Linked DNA regions of Homo sapiens: region 1 is linked to region 2. The links come from fine-mapping of genetic effects on gene expression. A gene starts in region 2. The other region holds a variant in brackets. All regions are shown on one strand. Distances are between the middles of the regions. Region 1 has its middle 58 kb from the start of DUT-AS1. Region 2 holds the start of DUT (deoxyuridine triphosphatase).

Region 1 (11,220 bases), 58 kb before region 2:
GACCATGTGAGGTGCCCCACACCCTCTCTCTTCCCTTACTCACAGCCTTCCACACCCCCACCAGGGAATGCTGGAGGAGAGGAGCTACTGCTCAAGTCTCCCAACTAGGGTGAGCTCTGGGCCACCCCCGCTGCCTCCCAGTCACAGGTGGCTAAGAGGAAGGGTGCTCCCAGCTCAGATTTGTGGCTGGAACAAGAGAGTCTCAGGAGAAAAGCTGAGCAAATTGGGTCAGACTTCTGAACAGGGATGGGAGATTCCTTGGAGTGACTGGGTATGTGTCAGCTGCTTAATGATTCCACTGTCTTCTCCCAACTTGTAAGGCACCGCCCTCCCCTTGGGGAGCTGCAGCTGCCAAGGAGCGCTGCTCAGTGCTCTGGCTGCTGTGACACGCGTGCTTAATAATAATGAGCATCATTTATGAAACCCTTAAAATATGCCAGGCAGCCTGCTAACCACTTCACAAATGTAGCTGCTTCATAAGCTTGGGATAAAAATGCAGTCACAATCTTTCAAATGTGTACACTAAATGCCTTGGCACCCCTGTTATGTCTATGTAAAAACCCCAAGACCCCAGGAAGGCTTCTTCAGTCTAAAAAGTCGGTCCAGATGAGTATTGCCCTAAGGCATTAAACCCGAAGCCTTCCTTAGTGTACCAAGGAGCCTCATTGTTTTTGGCTATAGTTGCCACTGCCTGGCGGTCACCATTAAGATTCTACAAAATCCCTGACTGTGGACTTCCTCCCAGCGAAACAGATGACAAAAACCCCTGCCCATTCCAGGAGCCAGATCCCTTCAGACAGGCACTTTCAGAATGGGAGCAAGGCCAAAAACACTGCACATGTAAGGATGGCATCTGCTCTTCTCCACTGTCCTTGGTGTGTGTGTTCTCAACTCAGGGACCCTTGGCTGGCAAACAACAAGTGCCAGGCACAGCTCTGGCACTTTATATGCAGTCCTCTGCATTCACACACACAGTTGTTTTCCAGACTCAGCTACCCACCATACTTCCTACTGTGCTATGGATCTCATCCCCTAAATGGCAAAGAAGGTCTACCTCTCCATACACAACACCAAGCCTATTTCCTGTCTCAGTAGGCCTGGTGTGCTTTTCAGGGAATTGTCCCACCTTATTATTCGTGGGTGATCTTTTTGAATTCTCACACCTCTTTGCATAATTAGCTCCATCTCACAAAAGAGGAAACAGGTAGAATGATGTGAAGGGACTTGCTCAAGGTCACACAGCTAAGACCTGGTTGAAGTGAGACTTAAACCCACACCCTGAACACGCTCTTCACAGCACGGTTTCATCCTGCCAAAGCATTCTTGGCTGGGACATCCACCTGAGTTGAAGTCAAGGGAAGAGGTTCTTGAGGCAGGTTAAGGTGTTTCTCTGTGGAGCCACTGGACCTGGGCTCAATGGGAAGAACCAGATGGAGACAGCCAAGCTGAAAGGCCTTATCTGAACTCCACTAGAGGAGATGAACATCGAGTCGTTTGTGAGTAGCCAGAACAAGTCATGCCACATGCGGGGTGTGGTAGTTTCGTACACATGTTGGCCTTGGACTGTGGCCTGGCCTGGCACTCTTACTAGGCCAAGGGCCTGGGTTAAGGAGACCCAGGAGGGTAAATGTGAGAGAATCTACAGGCACGTGTGCCAGTTTTGTGCCTCCCTCCACTCCTAGGCTGTTTTTTTTGGCCTCAAACTCAGCGCTCGCCTTTTTGGCCATAATCGCCTCTATACTAGGTCTGATGCTTTTTGGACAAAAACTCATGGGAAGAAGGGCTTTTTCTGGTCTCACTTGACAGTCATTTGGATACATGAACTTGCCTTTTCCGGTACCACCCCGATCACCCCTTTGTCTCCTAATAAAGGCCCATCATGGTGAAACACTATCTGGTCCAAACAAGAAGCTGGCATGGAAAATACTTAAACAGAAGTGAGATTTGAGTCCCAGTTAAGAGCCAAGCAATGAATGGAGAAATCAGAGAGCTGAGGTTATGGGCACAGAGAACAGAAAGAGCAGGTGGCTCTGAGAGAGAGACCCATAATGTGGGGTGAGAGGTGGAGGAATGTTAACAGGAAGTAAGCTGCGAACCACCAAGCCAAAGCAAACACAGGCTCCAAAACGGCCCATATGGCCTATCCATAAGGAAGGCGGCCAAGACAGAGCACAGCAGGAGGAGGGGAGGGGAGAACGCCCGGCTCCTTGCTCAACTGTCAACAACTGGGGGAGATGGTGCCAGTGATCCATTCTGGGCTCTACTTGAATAACTCAGATGGGGTGTCTTTGCCCCTTAGATCAGAGTAAGATGGGCTTGAATTCTATCATCACCCCCTACCCCAACCCCACCAGCCTGTGGAAATGTAAAACTCTCCCCCTGGTTTCTATGAATTCCTGAGGGCGTTTGTAATTGCCATCTCCTCTGGTAAGCTTCTACTTTCCAGTGTGTGGTGTCTGTCGTGCACCATAACCTAGGCATGAAACACAGCACCCCACCAGCGCCGCTTCTGTTTCCATGCACCTCTGCCCTCTCCACTTCCAAATTAGACCCTAAAGGATTTGGGTTTGAGAAGTGTTGGAAGAGAGGATTGGTCATCATGATATAAAGCAGTTTATATGACAATGCTTTTTCTCATATATCTGCTTGCCTTTGGGCTTTTTCGAGGAGTAAACACTTTACTACTACATGAACCTAAATATATATATATATATATATATATCTTTTTCATGACAGAAGGCTTTTATGACATGATGGGTTTTTATATAAGTATCAGATAATAACCACAATTATAGCTAACATTTATTAAGAATGTACCAGGTACCAGACACAATTAAGAAGTTTATATGAGTAATTCATTTTATTCTTACATTATCACCATTTTACAGACTAGAAAGAAGCCCTACTAGAAATTGAGTGGTACCCTCTTCAAGGGTTCACAGCTAATAAATAGCAGGACAGGGATTTGAGCCCAGGCACTCTGACGCCAAACCTGCATTCACCACTAATGCCTGTCTAGATCCACAGGAGACCCGAACATCCCCGGAGAGGGCGAAGAGCAGCTACAGGAGTACCAGGACCGTTTGTGTGGGAAGCAGAAGTTGACGGAAGAGAGAAAGGAGATGAGAAGGCCTGATTGATTATTAGGTCAACAGAATCTGGGCACTGAGAGGGAATGATCTATTTCGTGAACAGACTGCTTTGCTCTTGGAGTCATAGTCTCTGGAAGTGGATCAGAGAAAAACCCAGAAAATAAATGCAGCTTTAGTGAACAGAGAAGTAACCTTAGCCTGAACCCAGAGAAACAGGGTATGGGAATTAAGATGAGAACTCGGGCTTCCTGGAAGGCTGGGCAGGAGGCTCTGTCTCTGTTCTATGCTGCAGAGACAAGAAGGTTCTTGGCTCCTTGCCACTGGCAATGAGAATAATGGGACAGAAAGTGGGGAAAGCCTGTTAAGCCTGAAACAACAAGAGGAGGAAAGAATGTTACCAGAGTCTTGTAAGAGCTAGAACCTAAGAGAAAACGCGGTGCGGCCACTGCCAGAACTGTGGGAAGGCCAAGAGGAAATCAGAGAATGCTCCAAACTCTTTTTCCCACCCCCTAAACTCACACTGTTACCTCCCATTGCCCAAACCTAACTAAAAGCTGAAGGCAAGGTACTCTAGTAATATGGTACATAAAGAAACACAGAGCAAGGCACAGAAAGGCAAAGAATGGATTAGGGCGGAAGGGTAGAAACCGAAAATAACCAGCACCTCCTATGACCCAGCAAGTCCACTTGAGCTTTGTACAGTAAAGAGGCTCAATGCACTGTGTACAATGTGCATGGACAAGAAGGTTGGCAGCAATACTATCTGTAAAAGGCCCAAGCTGGAGACTACTCAAATATCCACTCATAGTAGAATGGATAAATAAACTGTGTTACATTCATTCATACCTAGGGACACCAAAGCAATGAAATTAATTAACCACAGCTATACACAATGGCAAGGATGAATTCCACAAACAAGGTTGAGTTAAAACACAAGGAAAGTATAATTCTATATATATTAAGTTTGAAATTGAGCTAAACTAACTTACATTACTTATGAATACATATAGGTGATAAAACTGTATATATATATACATAATATATGTATATTAAAATGTTATGTGTGTGTGTGTGTGTATGTGTATGTGTATATATATATATATATATATATATATATATATATATATATATATATATATATAAAATGATTATCACAAAAATCAGGATAGTGTTTACCTTTAGGTGAGAAGACAGAATTATGATACAAGCTGTTCAAGGGGAAAGGGAGGAAAGGGCGGCCTGTGGATGGTGGCAGTGTTCTA[T/C]GTCTTGATCTAGCTGTGGTTACACAGATGTTTGCTTTACATGTATTCATGAAAAATATGTTTTAGCTACATACTTGTAACATCCTTAATAATACAAATAAAAATGGAAAACATGTTGATATGGTTTTCAGATATTTGCTAGACATATGTATATATATAGTATATTTGAGATAATCGCTGCATTTGCAATTTTTCTCAATGCTAGAGCATAAGAATTTTCTGAAACCCATAACAACTCCTTTCTAAGTTAGTTTTAAGGCTAAATAATATTGCTGAATAATGTATATTATAAAGTAGTTAACTATTCCCTTATCAATGACTTCTAGGTTGTATCAATACTGTTTCATTTATGATACTTCTTGCCCTTTCTAATAAGTAGTTATTTTAAGGAATTCTAACCCATACTTTCATACTCCCGGCTTTCTTTGGGTGATAAGAGAAAAATGAAAAGAGTGTTAGTTAATAGTTCCAACTGACCCCCTAGTCTAAGCTATCTCTCCCTATGATTAGCCCTATCATCCTTTCTACTTGTCCTTCATGCCACTTATCATAATTGCAAAATGTGCAATTAGTTGGCAATTAGTTGTCCCTGCACTTACTTGGTCAATGTCTATCACCCCTATTGGGACCTCCAGGAAGGCAGAGAACACGTCTGCTTTGTTGATCTCTGTCCTCAGTGCCAACACAAAGCCTGCCTAGCACAAGGGTGCTCATTAAATATTTGTCAAAGGAATAAATTAATGCATGAATTAACAAATGAATTTGAATGTATCCAGTCTTTCTGCCCTGCCCAACTTTGAAAATGAGTTTATCTCCTCCAGGAAAAAGCCTCACAAAATAGAGACACCCCTGAATGTACAAGCAGAGGCCTAATTGAGAGGGACGAGGGTGTGGATGGAACCCCTTACTAGTTGTGATACAAAATAGAGGGTCTCCAAAATTCTTTCCATTCCCCAAATCTCAGGATGCAGTCACCTAGCCAGGGCCAGGACTCAAGACAGGAAGAGTAGGACCCTGTACCAGAACGGAGAGATAGTATTTGTTTAAAAGTAACTGAAGAGTTACTGGAAGCCATGTTCTTTCCTACTGAAACAAACAAACAAACAAAGGTTTGTTTGTTTTTTTAAGCTAGTTTATTTGGCCATATATGTAAATAAGCGTCAAAGGAGTGACCAAAAGAAAAAAAAAAAAAAAAAAAAACTTCTTAAGTGCAATAATTTTTTAAAGTCTTACTAAAATGTGGAAAGACTTAAATAAAAGACACATTTTTCAATAGTTTGTCTCAAAATATGAGGCCACTAATTTTCCATGTCTTATGCTTTTTTACACACTAAATTGAGAAGTCCTGAAAAAACCGTGTTTCTCCCATCTTTATCGGAATCAAGAACAAGTAACATTTCTTGTTAGGATATAAAACAGGGAAACATAGTTCACATATATTGCACAAAATTATTTAAAAAGAAAACTCTGGAAAGAGACAGAACTATGCACAATGGAAAATTGAAAATTCTCCAATTTCAAGATGAGTCAGCAAATAACTTTTATATGACAGCGACCTGGGAACCCTGCTGAACAGAAAAACCTACTTTAATGGGAAATCAGACCTATTTCCTGACTTTTAGGAACCATAATCATTTGAAGACCTCTTTTAGGTGATGTGTCCATGTCTTTGCCTGTTGAAATTTATTAGGAACAGAATATGATATTCCCAGGACAATACTGACCCACAGGAAAGGATCCTCACTCAGTGGAATGTAATTACATCAGGCCTCCTTGTCCCAACCTTTCAGGCTTTTCTTTCCCACATGGTGCAAGCTGTTCGGTGGGGCTGCCAGGTTTTAATTAGAAAGTCTTAGGTTTCCAGGGAAATCATCGGCACCTGGCTTCTTGCTTACACCTCTCCCAATCCTTCTCTCTTTCACCCCCAAATATTAATTTCCCCTTGCCTCAAAAGGGACATGCTTTTGCCAAGGATTCTTAATCCGTAGCAAGTTGCTCACTCAAAGAAAGGAGGTGGAGAAGGCAGGGGAGAGGAGAGGAGAGAAGAAATGGTGAGTTCTTTCCTTTCAACATTGATCATCCAAATAGTTTTGGTATTTCCTGGTGCTTTGCTCGGTGCCTTCTTATTTTTGAGATGAAACTGCCCACTATGTAATTACCTGTGTATTTTTAACTGATAAAATTGCTACCCTCTTATTCCCAATGGAATTGGGGCATAGAAAATGAATAGAGTGTCAAGATCCTGAGGCAATAACAACAATCTACTTAGTAACTACTCCCCATCTCCCTGTTACCTCTGAATTCATATACTTGTCTCAAATTTTCATTAGCTCAAAATTAATTTTTCTACTAAAATGTCATAAGTGGTGAACAATACCTAGTTTATTGCAGTAAGAATAGGACCAGCTAGAATCAAAAAGTTTGTGTCTTCCCCTTTCTCAAGCACAAAGCTAGCCAGACACAGACACATTGTTCAATGTATTTGTCACCTTTGGTCTGTCTGCCCAACAGCCCTCTCTTTTTCTGGGAATGGTAGTGCCCTCTCTTTAGGGAATTGTCTCTTCTCTAATCAAGTAGATTTATTAAAGACATGGGGCTAGAAAGGCCGGCTCCATCTGAGAGTATGCCCAAGATTCTAATACACTGGGAAGTTGTTAAATTTCTCTAGCAGGATGTCCAGCCAAGTATAACTTCAATACATTTTTAGAAAGAAAATTTGCCAAGAGCTTTTGTGTTTAGGAAGATGCAGAAAGTCATCCTGGGAAAGATGATACTCGATGTTTCCCTACAACACTTGGATGGTCTAGGTTATGCAGACTTGGCCACTCTCCAGGAAGAAGGGTGTGTTACACACTCCAGGTTCAGAACTGCTGGGGTGTTTGTGCAGTTCTACAGAATGAAAGCCTCTCTGATGGATCGAGACAGTCCTAACAGAAGTTCCCCGGGACATCAAGGGGCCCAGAGAAGAACTTCACAGGCAGGAAGCAGGAGTCTGGATCAATGAACAAGGCCACGGGTTTATAGGAAGAGCTGGTTCCAGGAGTGTAGCCTGGGCTGGACTCCTGCATGCTCAGCCAAGACCAGCCACCCTGCTGTGGTATTTATGTTTGGGAGGCTATAAATAACCTTCTGCATATAACTGAAGAGAGCCTACATCTTGAAGCCTGAAGGTGAGGTTAATTCAGAGCCAGTGCAGGACTCATGAGGGCCCATTGCCACAGCAGACAACATGCAGGGCACCCTGCAAACCACACTAGGGCATTAACTGCCCAAACAGCCTAAAGCTTGGGAGCCAAACTAACCCATCTGCACTGAACAAGTCACCAGGTTTCTGTACAATTTAAGTTGGGAGCCAAGGCTTCAGAAGAAAACAATAAATTTCCTACTAATATGGCCAGATGAGGAAGGTTGTTGTGCAATTGATTGGAACAAATATAAACATAGGAATGTAAATGGGTTATAGCCAATATTAAATGGCTTATATTAAAGGTACCTCTCTACATGAATATTCACTCAGAAGATCCATGACTTTTTAAATGTCCACTTGTCCATCACTGGTGTTTAGTGTTGGAAGAGAGGGTGCCTTTGTGTGAATGGTCTGTCAGTCAGGAGGTGCTTACAGTAGAACTCTGGATGCACATCACTAGAAAGTGTTTATACATTCCCCCCACACTGGTATTTAACTGCATCTGTCCAGTACTTCAGAGTTAAGGCCAAGCCATCTCCATTTCTAATTCAGTAGAGACACATACTCCATAAATGAAAAATTGATGTCTGTAATCCCGACATTTTGGGAGACCGAGGTGGGCGGATCACTTGAGGTCAGGAGTTCAAGACCAGCCTGGCCAACATAGTGAAACCCTGTCTCTACTAACAATACAAAAATTAGCCGGGCATGGTGTCAGGTGCCTGTAATCCCAGCTACTCAGGAGGCTGAGGTAGGAGAATCACTTGAACCCAGGAGGTGGAGGTTGCAATGAACCAGTATTGCACCACTGCACTCCAGCCTGGGCTACAGAGTGAGACTCCTTTTCAAAAAACAAAAAAGAAAGAAAGTAAAACTGAGACATAAGAGGACAAAATACCTGAAATCAAAACTCAACAGGTTGTGATACTTCATAGTATTGGTGTTTTAGCAGTGTGGTTGTGACCATGGACCTTAGAACTAAAGTGTCTTGGTTCAAATTCTAGCTTGATCACTTACTAGCTGTGTGACTTTGGGAAAGTTACTTAAATTTTCTGATCCTCTACTCCTCATAGAATAGAGATAGAAATGGTACCCATTTCACACTTGCTCAGAGCACTTACATTAGCCTACAGTTGGGCAAAATCATCTAACACAAAGACTATTTTATAACAAATTGTTGAATATCTCATGTAATTTGTTGAATACTGTACTGAAGGTGAAAAATTGGATGGTTGTATAGGTACTTGATGTATGGTTATACCGAATGCATATTGCTTTCACACCATTATAAGGCTGAAAAAATCATTTAAATAGAACCATAGTCAATTAAGGCTATCTGTATTATCTCACACAACTTCTGAGGGTCAAGTGTGACTTAGCTGGATAGCACCCAGGAGTGGCTTAGCTGGATAGTTTTCACTGAGGGTCTCTCATGAGGTTACAGTCAAGTTGTCAGCAGGGACTTCAGTCATTTGAAGTCTTGACTAGGGCTGGAGGACCCACTTCCAAAATGGCCTCATGTGGCTATTGGCAGGAGACTTCAGCTCATTACCATATGGGCCTCTCTGTAGTGCTGAGTACAACATAGCACCTGGCTTCCCCAGCGTGAATAATGGGAGGGAGACAGAGACAGAGATAGAGGCCAAATGGAAGCCATGGTGTCTTTTATAACTTAAACATGGAAGCAACATACTATTTTTTCTTTCATACTATATTGGTCACATAGACCCACCCTGGTGCACTGCCGGAGGGAACTTCACAAGGGTGACATTGTCAGAAGGTAGGGATCATTGGCAGTCACCTGGTAGGCTGGCTACCACACCAGCAGAACCAAGGGGAGCAGAGACTGAGTCTTATTGACACTTCTTGACTCCCTGGACCATCCATATCTCATATGAATCAATCACTGCCTTTCTGTGCTTAAGCTGTTGTGAGAAGTGTTTGGTCCATTGCTACGAAAAAGTTCTTGACTGGGATAATTGTTAGCTCTTATTGAGCATTTAATCAATGCCATGCAGTGTGCTTGAACCTTCATGACAACTCCATGAGTTAGGGATTATCATTCTTAATTTCCTTTTCCCAGATGAAAAAAACTGTGGCTGAGAAATTATGTGGCTTGGCGAAAAGTCATGCAACTGGCAAGTGGTAGATCCAAGTTTCAAACCCAGGCAGTTTTATCTAGAGCCTTGTCTCTTCCTATTATGAAAGGTCACTTTTTTTTTTTTTTTTTTTGAGGTGGAGTCTCGCTCTGTCACCCAGGCTGGAGTGCAGTGCCCAATCTCGGCTCACTGCAACCTCCGCCTCCCGGGTTCAAGCGATTCTCCTGCCTCAGCCTCACGAGTAGCTGGGACTACAGGCACGTGCCGCCATGCCCAGCTAATTTTTTGTATTTTTAGTAGAGATGGGGTTTCACCATGTTAGCCAGGCTGGTCTCCGTCTCCTGAACTTGTGATCTGCCTGCCTCGGCCTCCCAAACTGCTGAGATTACAGGCGTGAGCCACTGCACCTGGCTGAAAGGTAACTCTTAAGCATTTCCCCCTCTTGATTCAGTTTGAGATCTTTCTCCCCTAAGATGGGCTCTCAGCTTGCATTCTCTCATAGAGTGGTTCACATATAAGCTGAAACTGGGCCCATATCCAATGAGTACTGGGTGGATGGCCCAGGCTAAAAGCTGAAGTGAATCATAGGAGAGAAAACTGTTGCCCTGCTAAGCCATTCCTATTGTGGCATCCATGACGCATATCCAGCAGAGGCCAACCAGTCATCTATCACCAACCCAAGGTGCCTTCAGTTTCTGATCCCAGTAATTGAGGACATGTGTTACTCTGCAAACAGTCCTGATGGGAAATGGGTGGTGGTTCTTCCCCTCTGATGCTTGGGAAATGAGAGGGCAAAGGAGGGGAGTAGAGAGGAGGCTGAACACTTTTATTTTTTTTTATGTTAACAGCTCTAAATGATTAAGGGTAGGAAGGGAATGGCAATAGAACATAAAAATGCTTTGTGTAGAGTTCACATTTACTCGCACTTTTAACTCCACTGTGGCTTATTAGTTCACGGGAAAAATTACAAAAGGAAATAAAAACCTGACTATGAATCCAGTATAAACAATTTGCAGCCATAGTAACCAAGAAAGTGCAACTCCTAGATTAAAAAAAAAAAAATGTCTGTGCAAGAGTGTCCATGCAGAGGATGTCAGGAAATGGTTACAGAGTGAAGAACTCAGTCAACCCCTGGTCAGTGAAGCAGAGCAGCTCTGAAGAGGCTGCGTGCATACCCTGCATACCCTGGCTAAGATGTACATCAGGAGTTGGCAAAGTTCTAATTCCTATTTGATAGAGTTTCCAACTCAGCTGTAAATATTCACTCAAGAATAAAACAACGTCAAAAGACTTTGCCTGACAAGAATTTGATTTTTGTTGTTGTTGTTTAAATCAACTTTGGTTTGCATGAGTTCAACCCAACTTCACTGCAGGAAGACAATAGGGTGTGCGGCTTCTTGTGTGTTTCCACATTAGCTTTGGAATGACTCGAAGCCGCCTTGTGAATTCAATTCTGGATAAAATACAGCAACTCAGGACTCAGAACCACACCCTATCTTTTCACCTTTGGGATATGAGTCATCAGCTTCTAATTTGTGTAGCCAGATCCTAGCAATGTATGGCCCCAGGATCTGAGAGGA
Region 2 (11,220 bases):
AGTTATCACTGGAAAAATCATGCATTGGAACTGGCAGAGTGATTAACTGACTTCAGGCAAAAGTTTTACTGTGTCAAGAGTTTGGCATGTCATTTGTTGGAAACCTTTTTTAGTGAAAAACTATCCACACCTACCAGATGTGAATTCTGAACAGAATCCTGAATGCTCAACTTTTCCCTTTGACCCTTATTTAGAGCCTGGGATTTCTAACAACATCTCTCTTCAGAAATAAAAACTGTTGCCAACTATGATAAACTTGTGCCTAAGGGAGATTGTTAAGATTCTCTGCATCCAAGAACACACCACAATGTGATTTTATGAATAACACCATACCAACCACTAGGCAAACTAACTTTCCATTCTTTTACATGAATTTTTTTCCAGAAAGTTGTTTTAAACAGAGCAAAAATTAGTAACAAAGTCGAATAAAAGAAAAAGTTTCCACATAAAAACAATCTGTGAAGTCCCTAAGGACAGAAATTATATCTCACAGAATCTAATATGTGCCAAGTACTATATTAGGTATTTCATACACATTATCATTTAATCCTCCTACCTCTAGAGGCAGGCACACTAATTTCCATTGTAAAATGAGGAAACAGGCTCAGAAAGGTTAAGTAATAACTAGTTAATGACAGAGCTGGGACCTACATCCAGTTGTTATTCCAAAGCTCCCGTTCCTTGAACAATCATTTGAAACTTCATTGAAAATATATACAATTATTTATATCCTTAAGTTACTGTCCCAAAATGACCACAGTTGACCTTGTAAAAGCATTTTTGAACATCGGGCATAACTTACAGAGCCCAAGGAATCCTCAACCCAAGAGTGGGCTGTCAATGTCCACCCTGCTATGTAAAACTCAGCTCCCCTTTAGTCCCTAAAGGGTGTACTTTTGGGGTCCTGTCTTGTCCCACAGCACCACCTGGTGACACTATGGAGAGACACCACACCCACCAAATGTTAGACTAAGGGGCAGGTCTAGGATAGCCAGGTTTCATTAAGTGCTTAGTTAGCCCTTGCAGTGGCACATAAAAGTGAGCTAATTCTGGACGTGTTTAGTTGGTGAGGGGGATGCAGCAGGGTAATCTCCACAATTAATTGCAGTGGAAAGAACAAGGAGGCTGGAATCACACAGAGACTCCAGTTTTTACCACATATCCATGTGGGCTCATTTCTAAGCCAGTTTTCCTGATCTGTTAACAAGCCTCCATAAAGCAGCTCTGTAAAAACGGGTGGAGGAGGAGATCTAGCACACCTACTTATGTGGGGGCCAAGGTATCTTGTTAAGTGAAAGATTCACTACTGATGGGATAAAGGGTCAGTATGTAAGGACCACATAAGTGGGGTCTGAATCCCAGTTGGAGCGGACCTGAAACAAGGAAACCACATCAGGAAAGTAGAAATTTCCTTACAATAAGAGGAGTAGCTCTGTATCAAGAGTAGTTAGCAGAGGACACTGAGGGTTCTTCATGAAAGGTACCACATGAGGTAGGGTTAACTTTGAGACAAACATGAGAAAGGCTTTATTATAAGGGAAACAGGTAACACAGAGGACTGTCTTAACAAATTTAGAGAAAAGTGTTTTCTCTCCTGACTTCAGGGAAAGATTTTCTTCTTAAATTTTGCTAAAGACAGATAGCTCTCTTATGAAGAAAATTCTTACAAGATAGACCTGTGTTTTCTAGAACTTTTGTTGCTTAAATAATTACTTAATTATTATATCATTAAATCTGTCATTATTAATTAGGTAATCATTATTTTAAAAATTAAGTTAGTAGTTAAACAAAATATAATTACTTAAAATAACCACAAAGCTTTTCCTCCTATTATAACAAGCTTTCCTCTAATCATTTTCTTTTCTTAAAAATAAAATCTGTCATTTGAATATTACCTTTTAAAGACAAAGTAAATACTTGCAAACATTTACAGAATAAAAAAGGAAATATATTACCTCCTACATCAATAAAGTGTTTTGCAGCCAAGCCTGACCGTGGAGCTAAAAAACAAAAAAGGAGACATTGGTTATTTTAAGGGGGAAGGGCTATATCAGAGATAACTGATGCAATTTAAGCATGTCATTCTCTTCACCTATAATATCTATATCTTCATCTTAACTTTAGCACATGGTTTTGAATTAAAGAATATATATTCATCATACTGCATTACCAAAGTTGGAAAGACTAGTTTAGAAAAATTCCACAAGGTTTTAATTCAAAACTAACTTAAACCACTCCCATGTGACTTCAGTCAGAATTTGTGGTGCTGCAGACAGGGGAGAAGGACTGCTAGAATGAGCTGAAAGGTGAGCAAGCGGGAACAACTGTAGGCTGCTCTTTCAAGAAGTTAAGCCTCAAAGGGGAAGAAAGAGAAGTATGGCCAGCAGGAACACACTACTGAGGAAGAAGACTTTGGTTTTAAGATGGGACACCACAACATGTACAATGCAGATGGGAAGGGAAAGGAAGAGGAAGGGAGAGGGAAACAAACCTAACCAAATAGTAGCAGACCATAGCCTACAACTTGGGACCCCACTATTCATGATTCAGATGCCAAAAGACATGCCTGTAGGAAACACATGAACCAGAGTAAGATAAATGGGCTAATATCAGTTAAGTAAAAATGCCAAAAACTAAGTCTCAATGATTCAATGCTAGTATACTTTTTAATCCTAAAAAATGAAAAAAATAAAAAGCTAAGGTTACACCTTATTATTGCAGACTCAAGCATCAGGCCTATAATTAATTATCCTAACTTCCAGCATTTTATTTTAGAATAATTTAAATCAGGCACTTTGTCAATAATGCTGCCTCTTTCTGTACTAACCTTTATTTCACTCCATCTCCTGCCCCTTCCCCTGAAAAAATTCTAAAAAATGGAGTCAATGATGCTCAAGAGATGAGATGAGAGCCCATCTTGTTATCTTTTAAGGGCTGAAGTACTGGCAGTTTCCTCACTCATGGCTAATAATATAGTGCCAGTCTAGCTCCTTTCCCTGGAGGAGGGCGTCACAGCTCCATTGCCTCCTTTATGTTTACTCTGAAGTTAGTCAAAAAGAACTTACGCTCTTGCAAAGAACTGTCTGGTAACAACTGATCCGCTCCAGAAAAATCAAACCTGTTGACGTGTACTCCATTTTGTCCTAGCTCCTCCCAGTGCCTCTACAACACTGAAGAGTATCCCTTACCCTAACCCCATGGCCAAACAAGAAAAGGTTAAGTAGGCTTACACATTCTGGGACCAACAGGTCAGAAGTTTTACTCTCATAATATAAAATGCCATGTTCTGAGAACAGCCTTCTAGGCCAGTGTGAGCCTAAAAGCTCCAGTGAGGAAGGAGAAAAATAAAAGGGTCAAAAAGAGGCAAAGCAGAGATGTAAATAAAGCCTTTCAAAGAGTGCATTTGCTATCACAAATGGTGCTTCTTTTAGGACACAGCCCAAGCAATATTGCCTGCTTATTACCCCAAATGAAACATGAAGAATCTATCACAAAGGAGAACTTGACAAATAGTTACCTGTTTCTTAAATGACTTACCCACTCTTCCATAACACCCAGAAGGGAGCGCTATCTGAATGTCCGTTTTCACAACAGCTTTCTCCATAGGTGGTATTGTGTAATCATAGGCACTAAGAAAATATTGAAAGAAAATAACTGCAAATCTATTTATAAAATTGTTTTTATATTTTCTTTGTGACCAAGCATACAAAATTACTTTCAGTGTATTTAATGAATTAATGCAACTTTAGTTTCTAAAATCAACCTTGCTATGATGAATTACCAATTCATCTTAAAAGTTTATGAAGAAGGTAGAGGTGGCTATTTTATTATTAAAAAGACAGCTTTAGATAAAATAATTCTCCATGAATATTTTTGGTGGTGTGAAGAGATGTCAACATTGTAAATGTTTGCCCCTGAACAAAAGTTTATTGGAAACTGAGGTACTTATCAGCGTGAAAGGGCAGAAAGGCAAACTTTCAAAAGGTGGATGCTTTACAACCATAGTTTGAAAAGGAAAAAAATGAAGAAAGAACAAAGAAAAAAGGCCAAATACTACTAATAATACTAGCTATCATTGATTAAGCCTTTACTGTGTGCCAGGAACAGTTCTAATTGGTTTACATATATTAACCCATTTTATTCTCACAATGATCTGTGTGATTAGGGAAAATATGCAGAAGGAAAGGAGAAAAACGGGTGGACAAAATAAGAGATAAAGAACTGTGTTGTATCTGTCAGGCAGGGCTTGGTAGTTTACCAAGCTTAGGCTATGAATTTCCTGGCTGAGGGAGACAGCTGATCACCGTGAACGGCCCCTGGAGATGGACCTTGCTTAGGAACAGAATTCCTCTAAAGTCCACATAGCAAATGCTGCTACTCTTGATATTACTGTGGCCCTCTCCTGGGTAGAAATTTAAGAGATTTTACAATGAGCAGAACCGGAAGTTTACTTTGGAGACCTTAATTAACTCTGGTAAAGCAGTACTACCCCTTCTTTCACTGAAATCCCTCTTTAAACAGTTAAGCCCTAATTTATTGCTGATCCATTATTTCCATGTCAATTTCAGTATACAGAAAGTCACCTGTGTTTATTAGGAGTCTACTTAAGGTATCTTAAATCAAGGACTCCCCTAGGACTCAAGAAAGTGCTCCAAAATATACTTTGGAAAGGTCTAGTCAAACTATATCACTCTACTTTTATTCATCAAAATTAAGAGACTGTAGTTTTTCCAGCTACAATTGTCCATACCTACTTTCCTTTTCCTTTTTTTTCTGTTGCTATCATCAGGCACTACTTTCTCTTCTCCTGTGCTTAGACTAATAGTTCTCATGTTTGAATTATCTGAGATACTTTAAAATAAATCCCAATGCTTGGGATTTAGTATAAAATCTCCTTCCCTCTCAGCATTACTTTTCTCCTACCTTAATGGTTCTAAGAACTGGGCACAGTAGTCAGATGAAAAAAAAAAAGCCCAAAATTCGGGATAAAAAATTATATCATCTTCAAGCCTCTGGGGAAATCAATTCAGCTCTTCACAAACTCCTGCCTGTGTAAAAAGTAACACTTATCTAGTTAAGGATTGTTGTGAGGACTAAATACAACAGCATACGGAAAGTTTTTAGTACAGGTAAAACGTGCTGTAGAGATGAAAGTGTGGTAGATTACAGGCAGCTCTGCCTTTCGTTTTCAGATGCCTTCTCAAATTCCGCCCTGGGCCGGATGAATGTATAGAAAATAACTTTTTAAGGCAGATGCATCTTCGTTCATCCTTCTTAGGTATTTTCACGCTCACATCTAGGCTCTCACCTTGGTTTTTCTATTGAGCACAGCATCACCCTCGGGCCACTCGAAAGCCACCATGGGCCTTCCTCTCTATCTTCTATTTAGGAAGGGCACAATAAACGTTGCAAAGTAACGCCTTGCTAGACACCGTATAGCTATTTTACTTATTCTGCAGTCTTTGCCCAAATCTCTATTTAATTTATGCCAAAGATGAAAGCTAAAATTTTAAACACGAAAAAGGCAGAAATCCTATTTATAGCTAGTGTGTTCCTGTGATCTCTCCGGTGACTGTTTCTAGCTGTGGCAGCGGACGGCCGGCCCTTCCCAGCCTCCTCGCCGGCAGGTCCCCGCTCACCTGTACAGGTCGTAGCCCGCGGCGCGCGCGGAGCCCCGGGTGGGGGCCGTGGCGTGCTCGGAGAGCCGGGCAAAGCGGAGCTGCATGCCGCCCACCTCCGCAGGCCGGGCCCGCTTACTGGGTGAAATGGCGGGTGTCTCTTCAGAGCAGGGCATGGCAGAGCCAGAAGGCGAGCGAGGAGACCACCGGGGGAAGAGGAGAGCGCACGATGAGCGTCGCCGCAGGGAGCGCGCCAAAACCGAAATTTCCCGCCAGCCCCGCCCCACCCACCGCCCCTCCCCGGGACGAGTCCACAGTTCTGGCTGAGAGGGGAGGCGGGATTCACATTTTGGGTTTGAAGCCCTTCTCGGAAAGCAGGTTTGGGATGGGAAACTACTGGGTCCCAGTCAACTTTCCACATTCAGCGCGTGGGGCCAACTTTGAAGGGGAGCTTCTAGGGCGTCGCCCTCACACACTAGAAAGCCGCCCCCTCGCCAGGGGACCCTAATGGACCACCCCACCCCCCCCGCCCCCCGCGCGCAGAAGGACCGCTCGCCACCCTACTTCCCCCACAGCCTCAAGCCGCGTGGATTCCTTCCAGACGGCCGGAGCCCCTCCCCCGCCTTTCCTACCCGGCCCCGGCGCCGGGCTTCCCCCCGCCTTAGGAAGCTCGCCCTTCCAGCCAGCGGCCCCGACTGTACTGGCTCCGCGGCAGCCTTGGCTCAGGCGGCCAGCGCTGGACAGCGGCCGGGGAATCCCGTGCTGCGCGGCGCGGCCGAGGGGCGGGCCTGGCCCGGAGAGTACCGCGGCTTCGGCCCTCTGCCGTGCGCCTCGCGCGTTTTGCATCGCTGAGCGAAGCAGAGACGTAAGGAAATGGTAGCAGAGCGCGGGGCGAGGGCAGAGGGGAGTCATTTCCCCCAGAGTTTGGGCTGGTTGGGTCCTCGGCACCTCCGGACGTGCGCCAGGCTTCCACCCTGAAGACGCGCCCGTCCTGGGAACATGACCTCGGAAGCAGTCGCAGCCGCCGCCGGACGAGGGGCGTGGAGAGGCGGTGCCCCGGCAGCCCAGGGATGGCGCAGGCCCTGGGGCCCCAGGAAGACGGCGCCGTTGGCGTCTTGAGTCTTGCTGCCGCCTCTGGCTGCCTAGCCCTCTTGCTTTCGCTCTTCTTGTTTGCTCTGGCCCCCATTTTTCCGAGAGTGTACGCCAGGCCCGGGCCCTGCTCCTGGACTGATTTACCTGGGGCGGCACCGCCCGCAGCCATGACTCCCGGGCTCTGAGTTTAGCGGCGCCCTAAGCGCCGGAACCGCATCTCGGCGCCGGTGACAGTTATTGCGCCCGGGGCCGCTCCCCAAGCTGTGGGCAAGACACCGCGCCCGATTTCCTTTCAGCACCGAGTGTCAGACGTTGTAGTGTTTATTCGACCGGAGGCAGGGAGGGCGCTACTATCCTATCACAGGTTTGGGATAACCCAACAGAAACGCAGTGGGAACCCCTTGGCTAGGAGTCGAACAAGGATCCCGGGTCGTGGTAGTATAGTTTACAGTGGGGGATAAAGCAGTAACTTTCTAGATAGTTGTTAATAATTTTTTCTGAGCTGCAAGTATCTCCTTATTTCTCACAAAAATCTGCGAGCTGAATTGAATGGTTTTGAATTTTCAAAATTAAAAAAGCTGTGGGGCAGTTTTAGAGTATTATTGGGGAAATTTTACATTCGTTGCTATGCCTTTCCATACAGGCCCCCCCTTTTCGGTCTCCTTAACTGGTTCGTCTTCGTAGTTGGAATTCCTTTGCATGAGGCTATGGAATATACACTACCTTCTCTGGACGTTAACTATTAGCTACAGCTTGAGGACTCCCAAATTTATGCCTTTAGCAACACGATCCGAGCCCTGCAACTTTTCGACCTCATTTTGAGCCAACATTATTTTGCTCCCTTATTTTGTTGAAGTACTTTCTCCAGTTATTTACTTAAAATGTTCACATGAGAGACATACTATTTGATTCCTTGCTTGTACTAAGATGTAATGATTGTAACGACTTCATTTTCCTAGACCCAGATAAAAGTCTCGCTTCATTCATGAAACTTTTTACAATCAGTAGTGACCTCTGCCCCATCTTATCTCTTTTAACACTTACTATATCATTCATTAGTCGTTAGCCATATACTTTCATTGTGTAATCTTCTGATGTATATGCATTTTATCTCTCACATGAATTAGAGTCATAAACTTTTATGAATTCTTCAAAGCACTTACTTCAGTGTTTACACAAAAGTTACTTGTTTGGCTTATTACAATATCTAACACCAAGCAGGTTACCTTCTATTTTTTGTTGTTAATCTGTATACATAAAGTGTTTATTGTTACTTTTCAGCTGAGTTTATTTTAGACTAAAAGAGAAACGGCCATAATCTAACTGGCAAAAAGTAATAGGATTCTGAGCCAGTAAGCATTTAATAGAACGTTCTTTATGACAATAGAAATATAACTTGTTATGAACATACACCTTAAATGCAAGATACTGCAGTTAAGAACTAAACATGTTTCAACCATAATTTACTTCATAGTTTTTGTTTTTTTTTTTGAGACAGAGCCTTGCTGGAGTGCAATGGCTCGATCTCGGCTCACCCCAACCTCCTCCCAGGTTCAAGCAATTCTCCTCCTCAGCCTTCCAAGTAGCTGGAATTACAGGCATGCGCCACCACGCCTGGCTAATTTTGTATTTTTAGTAGAGATGGGGTTTCTCCATGTTGGTCAGGCTGGTCTCGAACTCCCGACCTCAGGTGATCCGCCCACCTCGGCCTCCCAAAGTGCTGGGATTACAGGCGTGAGCCACCGCACCCTGCCCTTCATGGTGTTTTCTTTATCAGACTATAGTTATCCTATCAGTCATGCTGATTAATTCAATTACCTAAGTCTAGTGCCAATTTGAACCTTCTGAAAATGCAAGTCAGTACTTGAAAAGCATGGTTGTTTTTCCTATCTTTGCCATTTTGGGGATTTCTCTCTCATTTTAACAAAGATACACATTGTTACTACTTTATGTCAGGTGTATTCTAAGTGCTTTAAAAAATATTAACTCGAGGCCAGGCGTGGTGGCTCACACCTATAATCCCAGCACTTTGGGAGGCTGAGGCGGGCGGATCACCTGAGGTCGGGAGTTCGAGACCAGCCTGACCAACATGGAGAAACCCCGTCTCTACTAAAACTACAAAATTAGCCGCATGTGATGGCACATTCATGTAATCCCAGCTACTCGGGAGGCTGAGGCAGGAGAATCGCTTGAACTCGGGAGGCGGAAGTTGCGGTGAGCTGAGATTGCGCCATTGCACTCCAGCCTGGGCAACAAGAGCAAAACGACGTCGCAAAAAAAAAAAAAAAAAAAAAATTGGCTGGGTGCAGTGGCTCACACCTGTAATCCCAGCACTTTGGGAGGTCAAGGTGGGAGGATTGCTTCAGCTCAGGAGTTCGAGACCAGCCTGGGCAACGTAGGCAGACCCCATCTCTACAAAACATATACAAAATTAGCCAGGCATGGTGGGTGGCAGGCACATGTAGCCCTAGCTACTCAGGAGGCAGAGGTGGGAGGATCACTTGAGCACAGGAGTTGGGAGGCTGCAGACAGTTATTATCATGCCACTGCATTCCAGTCTGGGCAACAGAGTGAGACCCTGTCTCAAAAAAAAAAACTCGTTTAATCATGACAACTAGAGGAAACAAATTCTTTATCCCCATTTTACAGATGAGGATACCAAAGCACAGAGTGATTAAATAACTTACCCAAGATCACACAGATCACAACTAGAAGGAGGTTAAACCACAATTCAGATAGTCTGGCCTCAGAACCCTTGCGTTTAGCCACTGTGCGCTGTAGATTTATATGTCCCCTGTTGAGTCTATGGTAACTCTTTTGCAGTTGTTGATGTTGAGACAAGGTCTTACTCTGTCACCAAGGCTGGAGTACAGGTGGTCCTTCCACCCCAGCCTTCCAGATAGCTGGGACTACAGGCACGTGCAACCACGCCTGGCTAATTTTTCGTACATTTTGTAGAGATGCAATTTCACCATGTTGCCCATGGCGGGTCTCTTGAACTCCTGGGCTCAAGCAATCCGCCTTTCTTGGCCTGCCCAAGTGCTAGGATTACAGGCATCAGCCACTGTGCCTGGCCTTGTGGTAACTTAATACTGACCTTGCTACTGGCTGTGTTTCCAGGTCTGGGAGAGATGTTTGTAGTAAATAAGCCAAGCATTCTTAATTTCACAGTTGATCATACCATCCTTCTTGAAACACTTCCTCCCATTTCACTGGCTGTCTCCTCAGTCTCCTTGGCTCCTCTTCCCTTCTCAACCTGTTATTGCTCACGATAAAAACCCTTGGAGTCTTACTTACCTCCTCTTTCTATCTTAGGTCTTCCCTTACCTAAAAATAGTCTCCTCCTAGGCAGCATCTAATGCTTTACCCTGTTGGGTTTTTCTGCATAGTATATATTGCTATGTAAAATTACATGTATATTCACTTGACTCGTTAGCTGTTTGTTTCCTCCACTATCATATAACCTTCATGATGGATTTAAACCTATCTTAATTTGGGTTTCAGATGTTCCTTTTTAAAACCTTTTCCTGCCTTCTGTGAAATTTACTAAATGTTTTTTATTTCACCTTTCCCCTCTAATTTAGATGTTTTACTCTTTAGTTTTATTATTTTAAATAAATTAAAACATACAGTGTCTAAAATATAAAATTAATCAAAATGATTGTCTTCTGGATAACTCAAGGACCTTAGACTGCTTTAACACCATTAACCCTTCTTTTGACAAATATGCTATTACTGTCTAGTGTATTAAATGTATCTTTTAATCTCAATAAGCATCATTATTTTACTACTTTTTATAGTCATTAAAAAAATATTTACCCATGCTTTTATTACTTTCTTTGCTCCTCTTTCTCATCTCCGACCTCCATCTGGATCACTGTCCTTCTGCCCAAACCTCCCATGGAGAGGATCTCCAATAGACAGTTGAGCTGTCTTAGTTTTTTGTGAGTTTGAACAAAACTCTCAAACTCCTCCTCGGGGGAATATGTTCTTTGGCGATCATTGAGGAATGGAAGAACTGAAAAAATTAATGGAAAATTGTCATCATTTCCTATAACTGAAGGAATCTATATTTCAATTTAGAACATTCCATCATGGAACAAAATACTCATTTATCATGCCACAGTTCACGCTTAATAGAAATATGTGTAAGCCAAAAAAAGACAGAAGCCATACTTTGGGTTCTGGTACCAAAATTTAGAAGTGCTCCTTTGTTTCAAGCCCAGAGGTTTTTATACCATAGGATAAGGTGCCAGTCAGGTTTTGGATAGGTAAGTGTGCCCATCTTTTGCAAAAGGGCAATTGCAATAGAGGAGGTAGGAAGAAGGGCTAGAATATAGGCAGATCAGTTTCAGTAAAAAGTACATTTGTATGTTGACTAGCTGACGGTTCATTCTTATAAAACTGTTTTGTCCAGAATACCATCAGGAAACTCCTTGGAATGTCTTATACTCCCCCGAGAGTATATATGGCTGAATGTGAAAACACTGAACTGGGGTATAATTTATGA

The links. PIP is the estimated chance that this variant, and not a neighbour inherited with it, causes the effect.
Region 1: its variant is fine-mapped to the expression of DUT in neutrophils (BLUEPRINT, PIP 0.95).

What each region holds. Positions count from the first base shown.
Region 1 is chr15:48,384,729-48,395,948 of GRCh38, reverse strand. No RefSeq gene overlaps it. Among named protein-coding and RNA genes, the nearest start is that of DUT-AS1, 58 kb to the right of the region's middle. The variant T/C (reference allele first, on the strand shown) is at 4,355.
Region 2 is chr15:48,326,826-48,338,045 of GRCh38, reverse strand. DUT (deoxyuridine triphosphatase) reads right to left here and starts at 6,617. Exons shown (of 7, transcript NM_001025248.2): 1 at 6,251-6,617; 2 at 5,640-5,778; 3 at 3,538-3,629; 4 at 1,956-2,000. The coding sequence starts at 6,530. DUT-AS1 (DUT antisense RNA 1) reads left to right here and starts at 6,190. Exons shown (of 3, transcript NR_186809.1): 1 at 6,190-6,483. RefSeq lists silencers at 960-1,029, 5,840-6,134, 6,185-6,394, 8,388-8,578 and enhancers at 5,840-6,134, 6,058-6,582, 6,583-7,109.